3 separate regions of the Homo sapiens genome follow, and regions 1 and 2 are each reported to be linked to region 3. The links are microRNA targets in miRTarBase. Many come from high-throughput screens and were not tested one by one. Region 3 holds a microRNA gene; each other region holds the end of a gene's coding sequence.

Region 1 (5,244 bases), not on the chromosome of region 3:
TCTAGTAGGCATGTAATTTGAGTAAGAACTATTTATATTGTGGTTGCTTTTGTTTTGTTTTGTTTGGAAATGGGCTCTCGCTTTATTGCCTAGGTTGGACTCAAAACTCCTGGGCTCAAGAGATCCTCCTGCTTCAGCCTCTTGAGTAGCTGCGACTACCGGCACACACCACCATACCTGACTGTATTGTTTTAAGCCTGTGAGATTTGGGGATATTTCAGTATGGTGTAACCTATCCAGACAGAAACAGTAAGTGTAACTGGTGGAATGTAAGATAGAGGGACTGGTAGACTATGAGATCTAAGGAATAGGTGGGGGTCAGGTCATGCTAAGCCTTGTAGACTATGACAAATTTGGATTGCATTCTGTATGAGGAAAAATCATTGGAGGACTTTGAGCAGGGGAACATGACATGATTTGCCTTTCAAAAGAATCAGTCACGTAGGGAAAACTTCTTATTCATAGGAAACACATACTGAGGTATTGAAAGATAAAGTATAATGCTTTCTACAACTTACTTTCAATTGGTTCAGTAAAATGTGTGCACAAACGGGCTAAAATCTAGATTACTTGGTGAATCTAGATGAAGGTTTCATTGTACTCTTTCACTTTTTTGTGGGTTTACATTTTTAAATAAAGTCAGGGTGAATCACTCTAGAGAACTATAAGACCATTATGAGCTAGTGCAGGTGAGATGAAGTGGTTTGGGCTGGAGTGGCAACGGTGGCAGTGGTGAGAAACGGGTGGATCTGAAACCCGTTTTGTATTTGAAGCCAGCAGGATTTGCTGATAGATTGGTTGTGGAGCATGAAGACAAGTCAATGTGTTTCTTAGGTTTTTGTCCTGAGCAGGTGGGAGGTGGGTGGTACCATTAACTGACATGGGGCGACAGTGGGAGGGCTAGGGTTAGGAAATGGGAAATAGCAATTCTATTTTGGGCACGTTAAGGGTGAGCATCCAAGTGGAGACTGGGTTGGCAGGTGGATAAATGAGTTGAGAATTCAAAGAGGTCTAGGCTGGAAATATATAATTTGGGATTATCAGCATCTATTGGCACCCAAGCCATGGATGGATAGGCTCTCCTAGGAAGCAAGTATAGGTAGAGGAGGGCCAGGACTATGCCATGGGGAACCGGAGCATGAATGGACTGGAAAGAGGACCATATATTTCATTTGATTTCTCTTGTTCTGATTCCACGCTTACTGAGCAAGCACCTGATTATTGTTTGACTTCCCATAGAGATCCACACATAAAGGAAAGATTGGCCAAATGGACTTGGAATATTCTAGTTCCTGGGAGAGTTCTCACTGTAAATAAATTTATCACATTCACAAGCTTAGCGTGAGTTAGCCCCTGAGACAAAGCCATAATCAGTGTGCTCACAAAAATCTGATGGTGAGTCTGCATAAGGGAGAGCCAGACCCTGCACTGTGGAAATTCCCCCGAGAATGAAGCACTGCTTGCTGGCACTCTTTCACAGCTCACACCTCTTTGCAGCCTGCCTAGTGAGAATGTTCTCATATTTCCAGAACTGGTGAGACAATCCTAAGCCAGGTGTAGCTAAGAGAATATTCCTTTTTTTCAGGTGTATATCTTTTATTGTCAAAGTTCTACTTATTTGTCAGGGTGTCTCACAGTTTTTCTTCCATGCTGATCTTGCATTTCCTTAGATCAGGGTCCTTATTACTTAATTACTATTTGGAGAGTATTCTCTATGTGCTTGCACTAGATCTATTTTAAAATCTTATTTCATTTTTATATAGGTAATATTCAATTGGTTCAAAAATCAAAATGACATTGAGAAATCTTCCTACCTCCTCCTGATTGATTGGTATCTCCTCCCCCACCCCTCCAAATCATTGCCTCTCTTTGTGAATCCATCTAGCTTTTAGGCTGTTAGCAATCTTTTGCTATGACAAAGTTGCAATTAATAACTATATATACATACATATACATGGTTTGTGAGCTGTAGTTTTTGTTTTCTCTGCTAAGCTGTGAAGATGAGAAAGACATATTCTACTTCTTTTGGGAGAGGAGAGGCAATTTCTGATAAAAGTTCAGGCTCAAACTGCATTCTTCTTCCCCTTCCCTTTTAGTCTGAAATGTGGATAACATGGCAATTCCTGTACAACATGATTAAATAGCATCCCTGGCTGAATCAGCTCAAGGATGTTCAAGTTTAACTATTGCTTTGAAAATAAAAATGGCTCATGCTGGCCCAATGAGAAAAAATAAGAAGGTCTATAAAGGTTATTGGAGAAAATGTGTTTGTGGGAGGTGGATCGACATGTAACTTAATAATAAAAAGAAACGCAGTTGAGAAGTTAATGCGTATTTGTCTTTTCCCTCCCATGGTGTAGCAGATTGTATTTTCCAAAGATAGCTGCCTCAATATATCCCATCCCACATGCTCTTATGATGTGACACTGACACTGTTCCCATTGAGTGGTGGGGCCTGCATTCTTCTCCTTTGAACCTCAGGTGATGCTTATGACTGCTCAAACAACAGAATGCAGTGAAAGTTGTCCAGTTAAGCCCAGTCAACCCCCAGAACCACAAGTAAATAACATAATGATTCAAAAAAACTAAGTTTTGGGATTATTCATTATGCAGCAGTAAAAAATAGAAACATGATCTTGATTTTGATTTTAACTGGCCTTTACATTTTCCTTGGTCTTGATTCTTTAATTTTCATTCAGATTTTACTGTAATTTTGTCTGTTCCTTTTCTTGGGTGGGGATGGTCTGTTCTTATTGCAGGTCACTTCACATCCTTTGTGGTAGAGGGTATAAGTATAATGTAATTACATTTTTAAAAGTGCTTTCCTATCTAACTCAGTGATGTAAACTCTCTAGTGTTATTCTGTAAATAAGGATAAATCCATGAAAGTTTTACCACCATTTTTGAGGGGTTTCTTTTAATGAAAAGGAAAAGGATTACTTTGTGTAGATCTGTTCTACACTTTCTGCTCCTCCCCAAAATAGATCCTTTGCCCATGAAAGTTTATAGAAATTATAATCTCATCTATGAGGACCAAATGACAGATTCATTCAACAAATAGGCCCTCAATAGGCATCTATTGTGTGTAAGATATTAGACCAAGTGCCAAACGTACAAAGACCCAGTCCTACCTCAACAGGGCTCCTGGACTAGTGACTATACCTATTAAATGCTTATCATATGCAAAGCACTGGGCATGTCTGGAAGTCATTAAATGCTTACAGTAATGGAGGAGTGTTTTAAACAACCACAAAAAAAGCAAAGTGACCAAATGACCTGAAAGGCAATTAAAAAAAAAATGAAAAAAATTATGCAGCAGTTTTAAAGTTCATTCATCCATGAATTCAGCAAAAGAGCTAATTTATTCTCTCCATATTCACAGAAACAAAATAATGCATCATATAGCATAAATGTTTAAAAAATCAGAATTACATTTAATATAAAAAATTTTGATATTATAGTTTTTAAAATACATTAGTCAACACTTATTCAACTATAATTAAAGTTTTTTTTCTTCAGTCAATCCCAAGTAAGAATCTGTTGAATAAGTAAACTGGAAACATGTATTTAAAGGAATGAATTAAAGATAACACTGTTTTGTTCAACAAGCACTTCTGAATACTTGGAGTAAATACAGCACTGTTTTGGGTATTACAGAGAACTGATAAAGGTAGAAAACACTGTCCTTGTCCATGATAAGATGCATCATATTATTTACATTGACAAGTTTTTAAAATATGAACATTTGTAAATGAAATAAATTAGAAATAAAAATTAAAAATAAAACAGAAATAAACATTAGAAATAAAAATTGTCAAATTATTTGTTACTGTGGAACTCTGGCTATGCACCAGATACAAGAAAAACCAGTAAATACATGACATATCCTTACAAGCTCTTGGGGTCAGGAGAAAATCAAAGTATTAATTGCATATCCTTTCTAGTATTAACCTTTTACTACAGAAATGAAAGAGTTAACAATGCACAGTTATATTTCAGGTAACATATATTCAAAGGTATATCAAAGGTGAAAATCTATCCAAGTTTTCCAAATGAAGTGGCAGTAAACCAATGACCACATAAAAGTAAAAATTAATTTTATGCTTTTTGAAAAAAAATTTGAGCCTTTTACTCACTGCTAATTTAATTTTATGCTTTTTGAAAAAAATAATTTGAGCCTTTTACTCAGCTTTACAAAGTATGAGTAGGGAAAATTAATGCAAATAATGTATTCAATATTAAAAACAATTAGAATAAGCCCACCCAAATCAGAGATTAAATGATTCTATGAACTAAACATGTAACGATGAAGGAGGGCTGGAGTGAAAAAGATACAGGAGAGTAAAAAGGAGCTATAAAGAAAAACCCTCCCCTAAACACATAGGCTAACACAGAGCTGAGACACAGAGGCATAAAATAGGGAAAAAACAGACACACTTAGCCAAATCTTGGCTTCCCCTCTAGATTTGTTCCATAAAGTAATTTAATATTTGTATCTGGTCTGGTGACCTTAGTGTGCTTCTTCTAAAGACTTTTAAAGTTACGCTATTTTCCTAAGTAGACTGAACTGACTTTAGAACCAGTGGTCACATGACTGCTTTACTTGGCTTGAGTTAGATGAAAAGTTTGGTTAATTAAAAACTTCTGATGTTATAGTTCATCTTCTGAATCTTGATTGTGAACTTTCTGAGGGTGTCTCTTAACAGTGATTACCATGTCAATGGTTAATATTTTTGTCAAACACTGAAGAACTGAAGTTAGTAGCTGGTATTTACCCATTACTGATTCCAAACCTGTCTGACTGCTTACCAAGGGTTGATTGGTTTGCAGTGCATGGACAGCTCTTATATATGTATGTGGAAAGCTGTACTTTCCTGTTTTAGATTTATAAAGGACTTTGGGAATGCCTAAAAGTGCATTAGCTATTATCATACTAACCATGGTTTCTTCTGATTGATGGCATTTTTTGGCATAATTGAGAAGATAGTAATGTAACAAGATCTCAAAATTACCACCTACTGGCAAAACACAACCAGCTGGCATAGATGAGGAAAGGTAACTCTGGGAAGTACCCATATTCGGTAACTTACAGCTCACTGGTAACATGCTTCCCTTTCTAGTAATATTTGTGACCTGTAAATTTTCGTAAGAAATTTCTATTCTATTTCCCCTTGTTGAATAAGCAGTGGAATTGTTCTTGAGTAATGGTTCATAATAATCAGTTAGCCTGTTTCTTTCCAAAGA
Region 2 (5,244 bases), not on the chromosome of region 3:
AAAAACCCAGCAGCTTTTAAGTTATCTTGTGTACATGGTTTAACAGAGGTATGGTCTTATTATGGAAAGAGTGTTCAAACCAGGCCAGAAGAATTTCATAGCCATGTTCATATTCAAGGCAACCATAATATTCTACTTTGCAAAAACAGGTTGGGCAACCAGCCTTTTAAGTCACTATGTCTGCATTTGGGGTATCTATAAGTAGGTAGAATCTAGTGTCCAATTGGAAATATTTCTAACTTCTCTTGTTCTCAAAACCATGATCTAGCACTTCAGTCCTCTTATGTGGTCTTCTGTCATAGCAGTCCCACTCAGTACAGAGCAGTTAATGAGATATTATAGAATGAAAACCAAGACCAGGTATTTCTTAAATTTATTGAAGAACTCTTAGCTGGGAGAAGAAAGATCACAGGCTTAAACAATTGTAAGATAAAAGAACAATTAATTGCAAATAATTACAAAAGTAATTTCTGAAATTTTTTGAGCCACTGCTGAAACAAAACTTTAGTGCATCTCAAAGTTCGTATTTTGTTAAGTGAACATATTAAATTACTGAAAAGCAAAAAAGAGTTACTGTTACACAGTACAAGATCTTAATATAGTAACTGAGCACAGCCAAATAAACAGCTATAATTATTCCAAGCTGCTTTTGCTATGTATCTGGTATATTAAACAAGAAAGTGGATTACTTTTAACACTGCACAAGTAACCAAAGGTAGCAAATCCAGCAATATTAAAACCGGATATTAAATAGTATTCAAACATTACAACAAAAACAAAATAAGAACTTCTAGAACTAGAACTCTACCCTATGAAAGGAATGTACACAGATGGTTAAAAAAAAACCAATAAATAAATAAAGTGACAAGAGTGACTAATTCTGTATCCACATCTTCAGAGCAGGAATACAGTAAATGAGTAAATGCTTAGAGGAGTCTTGCTGAAAATGAGAAAAAATGCATCTCACTTTAGTATAATTTTTCTAAATTCTCACTGAAGCTCTAATTCTCTTGTGCTGGTGACAGGTGGACAGGGTTTTTAAATGCAAAGTATTCTCCCTACACCCTGAGTATGGATGCATCAGTTGTTTAAAATTCTGTGGAAAGTTTCCTTAGAAAAACATAAAATTTAAAGTGATATACTGATGGGAAATTGAATATATTAATTGTGGAAGAATATCAGCTAACTAATTAACTAAGTAGACATTTAAATCTGGACTCTGTTGAAGAATCAAGGTTAAACTCTGCATTATGTGCACTAATGTCAGCCATCTAATATCAAAGTCAGATAAGTAAACTATCTTTCACTTTATACATAGTGCATTTAGTAAATAAATTCTCTTACCAGCAACATAAAGCCCTTGTTGGAGCAAAATTAAAGTATTAAGAATTGAATTAACTTACAACAAATATCTGAAGGGTAAGTGGAACATTTTTCAAAGTATAAAGATGTTATCACATATATTCACCATGAATCCTCTTAAAGGTTTTATAACACCATTAAATTATATCAAATATCCAACAGATATTGTCATTTTCTTCTGTGATTTATAAAGGAAACATTCCTTTTGTACAAATCAGAAGTATCTTAAAAATCAACCTTAACACCAAAATATACATGTAATTTTAACTTGGTTTAGGAAAACATGAAAGAACTGTCACATTTTGGTGTGAACAAGGTTCTGAAAACCCCCTATCAGAGGTCTCATTCACTTTTTTCCACATATCACTTGAAGGTTTTGAAACTGGTAAAAACAGAATTCAGCTCGATGTACATCAAAACTTTAACAGTTCTGAAAAAGACGTATTTCGTAAGGGCCAAAATGTACAGCACAGCAATATTACAATGTTACAGTATAAATATGTCAAGCCAATTTGTAATAAAATAAGACAGTTGTCTTCAAAAGAGCTGTTTGACTATAGAGCAACCAAATAGATCTAGAACATCTTTGGAAAAACCACAAAGTGCCTTTACAGAAAGTTAAGTTTAGACTACACTTAATTAAAAGATAATACTCTAAACTCAAAATTATTTTCTCTATATGAGGAATTTTGACACTTGTTTTCACACCTGCCAATATTCAATATTTTTAACTCACACTTCTTTTCATACATCTGCCAATATTTAATATTTTATTCTATGCCCCTGCACTGAATTGATGTAAGTGTGAAGTTCCACTATTATTATTACCACACATGCTAATACCTAATAACTGGTCTGTCATTATGTAGTGGTTAAATAAGCAAATGCTGAACTCAGCACAGCTCTAGCAAAATGCAAAGGAAATAAGAAAAGCCTCACCTCAGAATGATTACACCATAAACAGAAATAAACATTTTCAAACACAAAGTTTCACAAAATAATATATCATCACTTTAAAAGAAATTCAGAACTCTATTTTGCTGTTGATCAAACTTGTGCATACACTCAAGTTACTAAACACAATTTGATAGTTAGATACTTGTAAAAATGCATTCTAAACTTAATAATCAATTAATTCATAATTAACAAGAGCAAACATTCCTAGTCCTAACATTTAAAAAAACCCAGTCCAGTGCTGCCACATCTCAAGTTCTGAAAAGCTAAAGGCAGGAACAATTCTGGTTATACAATTCCTGCATTTCTCCACCTTAAAAAATACTTGAAGAAACTTTAGGAAACTTTATATTAAGGCTTGCTGTATTTCTGTATCTTAAATTGAGAAAAATCAAAACCTACGATGTAACCTCGAATTATTTAAATAGCTTTTGGCATTTTTCTTGAAAAGCAAATTTGAATCTTTCACTATAAAACATTTCTATACCACAATTACTAATTCACATTAATGTGTAAGTGCCCTCATTTCCTATTCCCTGGCAGGCGCTATGTCTTCTTTCTACGTTTTGTGCAGCTTTCAGAACAGTCAGTGCTCAGAAAAAATGAAAACGTAATGGAGCAAAATCAAAGTCCCCAAAAAAAGTGATTTATCCTAGATTACAAAATCCAGTAGTGGAAGAACCAACATTTACACACCCAAATACACACACACCCACACATACACAGGACACAGCGAGAGATGAGAGAGAGTGGGGGGTGGGGGAGGTGAGAGACAGTGGGAGGAGGGGGGAGGGGGAAGAGAGTGGGAGGAGGGGAGAGAGAGTTGCAGGGAGGGAAGAGAGAGACAAAAGCAAGACACAACCTTTGTCCTCTATTCATGTCAACTTGCAGTTTCTGGACACAAACTAGTAGGAAATGTAGAGCCCAGAAAGATCGTGTCAGAGAACTTGACGAGACAGTGTAGATATAGTTTATCTGGGTGGGGCGGGGTGGGGGGAAATCCCAATTTTTCTAAAACAAACAAACAAACAAACAAAAAAAACACCACATTCTTGGTAGAGGTTTTTTCAAAAATCCAACAATAAAAACTACTGGGCTTCTCTAAATGCATTTCCATATTAACATTAATTTTTAAAATTTCAACATGTTTTACAATTTAAGTTTTCACTTGTAAGATAAGTTGGGAACCCAAAATTGTCAAAAAAAATTTTAATTATTGTCAATAAAAATTCTTACTGCACAATCTTTATAGGCGTTTTATTTTAAAGCACCTTTTTAAATTTTAACAGTGGGTTTCTAAAAAGAAAACAGTAAAATAAAAGAGGGAACAAACTGGCAAGGTTAAAGTACTCCCTTACACACACACACACACACACACACACACACACACACACACACACCTTTCATGCCAGAATGACTGGCAGCATTGGCAAATAATGTCAATGAAAGGATGGGGGAAACTATCACTTATAGTGTTTATAGAAACCTAAAATACTAATGTTTCTGCTAAGAAATTAAATAGTTTGGGGAAATCAAAAAGCTACCAATAGCTGATCTATGAAATATGAAAATGAAACTGATTTTTAAAAACAGGAAAGGCCAAAAATCTACTAGAAATTTTTAAAAATCAGCCTCAATTTTATTTTCTGATGTCAGACTAGTTATTAATTAGATACCATTTGTTTGCAAAGGAGCAAAATTATAACTCTATCACTGGAACCTATCCTCAGCCACTTCAGTGCAGTTTCTAGCAGCACTATTTGGATACAAAAAGAATGTGGTCAGACAATGCCCCTGAAAACCCCCTGGTTAGACCTTCCTTCAAATACATGTTCTTAGGGTCTTGACACACTACACATGTGTATAGAAGAATAAATGAAGGTAGTATTTTGACAGATTACAAAAGTATGAACTATATACACCGAGTGATAACACAAAGCGCTCAGAAAGCTATATTTACTTGCCTCCCAACTGACTTACGATGTTAATATTCACTATTCAAATTTTATCCTAAACATCTTTATTGGCTTGTTCCCCTCCCCAAACAAATACTAAAATATACTGGTTTGGGGTTTGCTCTATGCATTTTCCAAGAGCCAATCAAACAGCGACTTGCATCTCTCCTCACTGGAAGCTTTTTCCATCACTTCATAGTATTGAAGCACAGCCTGCAGGAGGTCTCCCACTTTCCATCCTTTCTCTTGTAATTGTTTTGAAAGCTAAGAAAGAAAGATGTGTCAAACATTAACCAAAAACAATTTTATAACAAAGCTTTTATTTTTATTTTCAATATTAGCTGAAACTTAAGAATCCTGCTGTTTACAATTAAATACCGTTTCCTAGTTATAACAAGGTCTTCCCCTCTAAACCGCTACCCCTTTACCCAAATTAAACATTTTCCCTTCTTCCCCTTTATAAACACATCTCCTCCAGAGAATGACACTTTGGGATCGCTGGAGACAGAGCTCCACAAACCTCACCAAGCAAATAGTCTGCATGGACATGCAGAGGCTGAGTTTCTACAGGAAATTCTTCACCTAACTAAATACAACTGCCACACCCTCAATTAGGACATAAAATAATAAAGACAACGTCAAACTCAATAAAAGGATGTGGATTTTCCTTCCACAACATATAGTGTGGCATTTTTCTGGAATACACACTCTAGCCTCAATGGAAACATGGCTTTCTAAGTTAAAGAATGTTAATGTTTCAACAACAAAACAACAAATAAATAAATAAATAAATACAGGTTTAAATAAATCCTGTTGTCACCACTCACGACATGCTTTTGTTCATTTCTTTTTCTACTAAGTTCTGTAAAAGCTCTTAAGTTTTGAAAGATCTGTAAGTTAAATTCTGAAAAACTACTTTAATTTTGTGTAACATATATATGCTTAACCTTTTTAAAAACAGCTTTATTGAGAT
Region 3 (5,530 bases):
CAGCCTGGGTAACATAAAGACTCCTGTATCTACTAAAAAAAAAAAAACTTAGCTGAAGTCAAACCACTGCATCAGAATATGGGCATTTTTGAGAATCAGTATACACAGGGCAAAACCGGATCGCTGAAAGAGCTGCACCAAATTACTTGGTTGTAGCTAGAATGAAGTTGGCAAGTAGAAGATAAGAAAGGCCTAATCTCAGACAACGGCTTATTTACAAAGTTGTACAAAAAAAAGGAGTCTGCAAGTGAGGAACTATCCACAACTGGGAGAGCAGGGAGGCGCTGGGCCAGGATGTGATGACACAGGAGTCTTCAGCCCGAGGAGGAATGGAGAGCTCAAGTGTTCTGAGCAAAGGAAAGGCAGCTGTACATGCATTTTAGAAAGATCTTGGCCCGGCGTGGTGGCTCACGCCTGTAATCCCAGCACTCTGGGAGGCTGAGGTGGGCGAATCACTTGAGCTCAAGAGTTCGAGACCAGCCTAGACAACATAGCAAGACCCCTGCTCTACAAAATAATAATAATTACATATATGTATGTGTGTGTGTGTGTGTGTGTGTATGTGCATATATGTGTATATGTATATATATAGTATATGTGTATATATATGTGTATATATATGTGTGTATACACACACAGAAAAAACATTAGCCAACCATAGTGGCGCACACCTGTAGTCCCAGCTTCTTAGAAGGCTGAGGTAGGAGCATTGCTTGAGCCCGATCACACCACTGCACTCCACCTGGGTGATAAAGTGAGACCCTGTCTCAAAAAAAAAAAAAAAAAAAAAGAAAGAAAGAAAGATCTTGCTGCAAAAAGGGATAAGATACTGCAGAGAGGCTCCAGAACAGGGGCCATGGGAGTCAACCCGGTGAAGACAAAGGGTTCGGGTCTGAGAGTCAGTGGGCCTCAGGGGTAACCTCCAAGAGATGGAAAGGTCCATCCCACAGGTCCTGGAGACTAGAAGGATAAGGTTAGCGCAGAAAAGAGATAGGGCCGGGAGCAGTGGCTCACGCCTGTAATCCCAGCACTTTGGGAGGCCAAGAAGGGCAGATCATCAGAGGTCAGGAGTTCAAGACCAGCCTGGCCAACATGGTGAAACCCCGTCTCTACAAAAATACAAAAATTAGCAGGGCGCGGTGGCATGTGCCTGTAGTCCCAGCTACTTGGGACGCTGAGGGAGGAGAATCGCTTGAACCCGGGAGGCAGAGATTGCAGCGAGCTGAGATTGTGCCCTTGTACTCCAGCCTGGGCAACAGGACGAGACTCCATCTCAAAAGAAAAGAAGAGACATAGCCACCTGACTACGTAGAAAACTACCGTTCACAGGATGGGGTACGGATGCGGGGGAAAGATGGTTTGAGCCAATATTGAATTTAAGGAGCCCAAAGCCTGCCCAAATGAAAGTACACAGCATGGCAGTCAGGTAAGGCACCTGCGAGGCACAGTGGCCAAGAGTGGAGGAGTACAGTGGGCAGCTGAAACTCCCAAGGAAAACCACCTCCCTAGTTCTGCCTACACAAACATCAACGAAAAGTGGAAAGTGCTCCCACATTACATCATCCATGCATTTAACTTGCTCAAACCGAACTATGTAAGTTTGGTTTTTTCCATTTCTCTTCATACAACGAAAAAAATGTGGGCTAAATAACCCTTTTTACCTATGGAATATTCAGCACCTAGAACGGTGCATGCCACATACAGACACTCAAAATACCTGAATACATTCATGTATACACTATATACATAAACATTATGTATACTGCATGAAAACAGTATGCATTTATGTATATGATAATTAAAAAGTACACATTGTTCTGTGCCTTATGTGATGGGTGATGTTAAGAGGTTTTTTTTTTTTTTTTGAGACAGAGTCTCACTCTGTCCCCCAGGCTGGAGTGCAGTGGTGCGATCACAGCTCATTGCAACCTCCACCTCCCAGGTTCAAGCGATTCTCCTGCCTCAGACTCCCGAGTAGCTGGGATTACAGCTGCGCACCACCACGCCCAGCTAATTTTTGTATTTTTAGTAGAGACAGGGTTTCACCATGTTGGCCAGGCTGGTCTCGAACTCCTGACCTCGTGATCTGCCCATCTCGGCCTCCCATTACAGGCATGAGCCACCGCACCCGGCAAGAGTTTTTAATTTTTGCTCACAGCACTAACTTTATAGCCCAAACCCATGCACTTGAAGTGGCTCTACTCTAACCAGTGGTTTCCACCCTAGGTCCATTCTTCCCTCCATCCCCAGCTCATTATCCACATAGCATGATCTTTTAAAAACTTGGGAGGCCAAGGAGGGAGGATCACCTGAGGTCAGGAGTTCAAGACCAGCCTGGGCAACGTGGTGAAACTCCCGTCTCTACTAAAGATTAGCCGGGCACGGTGGCGGGCGCCTGTAATCCCAGCTACTTGGGAGGCTGAGGCAGGAGAATCGCTTGAACCTGTGAGGCAGAGGTTGCAGTGAGCCGAGATCATGCCAGTGCACTACAGCTTGGGCAACAGTGTAAGACTCCATCTTAAATAAAGAAATACATAAATAAATAAAAATAAATAAATAACAACGCAGCTAAATCACATCATTCCCTCCCCTGAGGCCACGATGCACGCAAAGTACTGAAGCCCTAAGGTACTTAAAACAAAAACAAGCAAGTCTTCACCTCTGTCTGATCCCATCCCAACCTACCTAGCCAACCTTACCATGTTCACTCTTCCCTTCCCTCCAGGCCAAGTAACCATGGCCACAGACCCCAGCTTTGACTCAGCTAAATGCTAAGCTCTCCCTTGCTCTGGCCTTTGCTCAAGTAGCCCCACCGCCAAGAAAGCTCTCATACCTGGTTCCTCTTAGCCTTCATCCCTCAGCTCTAAGCCAATCCCCTCGAAAGCCTCACCTTTCTGGACCACAGTGTGCCTGGCAGCCCACCCCACTCAGTCGAGATCATGGATTTCTTCTGAACCACTTCATTCTATCTGGATGTGTCTCGCAACCTGCACCTGCTTTGAGCATGGGTATATTGTGAAAGTCTTCTGCAGGCAGAGACCCTGTCTCTACCACTGACTGCAGGAGCCTAGAACGGTAATATTCACACAGGGCTCAACAAAATAGGAGGAAGGACTCTGTCTCCTTGCTGACAATTAAAGGTGTAGGAACAGGAAGACAAGATGGCAAATTCAGTGTGTGCAAAAGAGAGATGTAAATGGCCAAATATTATTCTGAAAGGATATATTCAACTATTTCATACACCAAAGACGATGAAAACAAGTATGGTATTTTAAGAGGTGTTTTGCCAACTACTACTAAGAAACAGTCAGTAAAGCAGATGAGGGGGCACCATCTGAAGGGGCAGTCATTAGTATTTATTCTCAGGGAAGAGTCATTTAGCTAGTTTTACCTTATTCCAATTCTTCCTAATTTGTTCACTAAAGTTAAGCTTAGCAAGTACCTTGTTTGCAGCACTCAACAAATTACAGTTGTAGCCAATTTTGCATCATATTAGGTTGAAGCAAAAATAATTGCGGTTTTTGCCATTAAAAGTAAAGCAAAATCCGCAAGTACTTTTGCACCAACCTAACAGCAATACTTGAGAAAAGCTTCTGATTCTTTATACCTAAACCTGGACACTTCCAACATTTGGGGCCAGATAATTCTTTGTTGAGGGGGCTCCACTGCAGAATGTTTAGGAGCATCCCTGCCCTAGCTGTGACAACCACAAATACCTCTCAACACCACCAAACACCAGCGTCTCCTCTTTACTCTCCCCCACCCCCGTCCCCCTTCTCCCCGCAAGCTTGACCCTGGTATCTGCCACTCGGCTGTCATCCTCTAGTCCTACACAATTCCGCCAGGTTGTTCTTTTCTACTGCCCTCTGCCCTCGGATTCTAGCATCCTAGTTTGGGCTGTAACACTTCATGCCCACATTGCAGGAACTGCCTCCTAAATGGGCTGTCTTGCACCCTCTCGCCTCCTCAATCCATCCAGCACACCTTCCACTGCAACCAGCTGAAGCTCACCCATCACTTTGACAGGGAACACCCCTGACACAGGTAGACTTCTTTTTCACTAAGTTTGGATTTGATTTGAAGACCTCATTCCTTAGAATCTTCTGAGTTTTGTACCCCCTGCTTCAGGGATTGGCAGATTGGGAGAGAGACTGGCAAAATTTGGGACCTCACCTGCAATGAAAGGTGAACAGTCTCTCTTCTAGGTTTCACACAAAAGAGTTCTTCAAGCAAGAGGTCTTCTAAAAATCTCATTTGTTGCTTTCAAAAAGACTGTAAAAATCACTGCACTCCAGTTTAAAATAAAATCTCCATTTGAAAATGCAACTGAAACTTTAAAATGAAATTAGAGAGAAGCCCAAAGGCAATATTTGCTTTAAAAAAAAAAAAAAGCACTCGGTCAGTCGGTCAGGCATGATGGCTCATGCCTGTAATCCCAGCACTGTGGGAGGCTGAGGCGGGCAGATCACCTGAGGTCAGAAGTTCAAGACTAGCCTGACCAACATGGTGAAACCCCGTCTCTACTAAAAATACAAAAATCAGCCGGGCATGGTGATGCACGCCTATGGTCCCAGCTACTCAGGAGGCTGAGGCAAGAGAATCGCTTGAACCTGGGACATGGAGGTTGCAGTGAGCTGAGATCGCACCATTGCACTCCAGCCTGGGCGACAAGAGCAAAATTCCTTCTTAAAAAAAAAAAAAAAAAAAAAAAGCCAGGCACGGTGGCTCACGCCTGTAATCCCAGCACTTTGGGAGGCCAAGGCATGCAGTGGATCATGAGGTCAGGAGATCGCGACCATTCTGGCTAACATGGTGAAACCCTGTCTCTACTAAAAATACAAAACAAAAACTAGCTGGATGTAGTGGCGGGCACCTGTAGTCCCAGCTACTGGGGAGGCTGAGGCAGAAGAATGGTGTGAACCCAGGGGGTGGAGCTTGCAGTGAGCCGAGATCACGCCACTGCACTCCAGCCTGGGTGACAGAGCAAGACTCCATCTCAAAAAAAAAAAAAAAAAAAAAAAAAAAATCAGCACTCAAAAAGGAAACATACATGGGATCAAGTCATAGAATAAACATTAGGTAGCTGGGCACACTGGTTCATGCCTGTAGTGGTAGCTACTCAGGAAGCCAAGGCAGAAGGATGGCTTGAGCCCTGGAGTTGGAGATCAGCCTAGGCAACACAGCAAGACCCCATCTCCAAAGTAAGACTAAACACCACGCACACAACCTCTCCTACCTCCCTAGCCTCCTTCTTTGCCACTGCCAGATATGTCATCACAAACCCTCCCTCGGTCTGACACAGGGCATGGGGAAGAGTAGAGACTACAGCAGGGTGGAACAGCCCACACAGTGGCCAAGACGGGAATTGGAGGCCAAGGGCTGTGTCTCCCGCTGGGCAGGCCACTTGCTCTACTGTCTTTAAGTGGTTAAGTGACTGGGCAGGGGCAAATGGGGGATTCTGATTAGAAACTGGACAATGTCATGAGAAGCAGACTGGAAAAAAAAAAAAGAAACTGGACAAGGTAGCCTA

The links. Region 3 holds the annotated microRNA hsa-miR-548k (AAAAGUACUUGCGGAUUUUGCU, at 3,538-3,559, opposite strand). A microRNA usually pairs through its seed, bases 2 to 8, with sites in the 3' UTR of a target mRNA and lowers its output. Matches are read on the target gene's strand: a 7mer-m8 pairs with bases 2 to 8, a 7mer-A1 pairs with bases 2 to 7 and ends in A, and an 8mer does both.
Region 1: the mRNA of BBS10 is a reported target of hsa-miR-548k. Seed matches in the 3' UTR shown: 7mer-A1 at 4,475-4,481.
Region 2: miRTarBase lists AKAP11 as a target of hsa-miR-548k. Seed matches in the 3' UTR shown: 8mer at 3,659-3,666 and 7mer-A1 at 1,376-1,382.

The regions. Positions count from the first base shown.
Region 1 is chr12:76,341,163-76,346,406 of GRCh38, forward strand. It overlaps BBS10 (Bardet-Biedl syndrome 10), which reads right to left. Exons shown (of 2, transcript NM_024685.4): 2 at 3,312-5,244. The coding sequence ends at 4,651. Among named protein-coding and RNA genes, the nearest start is that of BBS10, 4.6 kb to the right of the region's middle.
Region 2 is chr13:42,318,379-42,323,622 of GRCh38, reverse strand. AKAP11 (A-kinase anchoring protein 11) reads right to left here. Exons shown (of 13, transcript NM_016248.4): 13 at 362-4,535. The coding sequence ends at 4,395. Among named protein-coding and RNA genes, the nearest start is that of AKAP11, 49 kb to the right of the region's middle.
Region 3 is chr11:70,282,015-70,287,544 of GRCh38, reverse strand. It overlaps MIR548K (microRNA 548k), which reads right to left and starts at 3,590; the gene lies at 3,475-3,590. All of the region lies in intron 2 of PPFIA1 (PPFI scaffold protein A1), which reads right to left.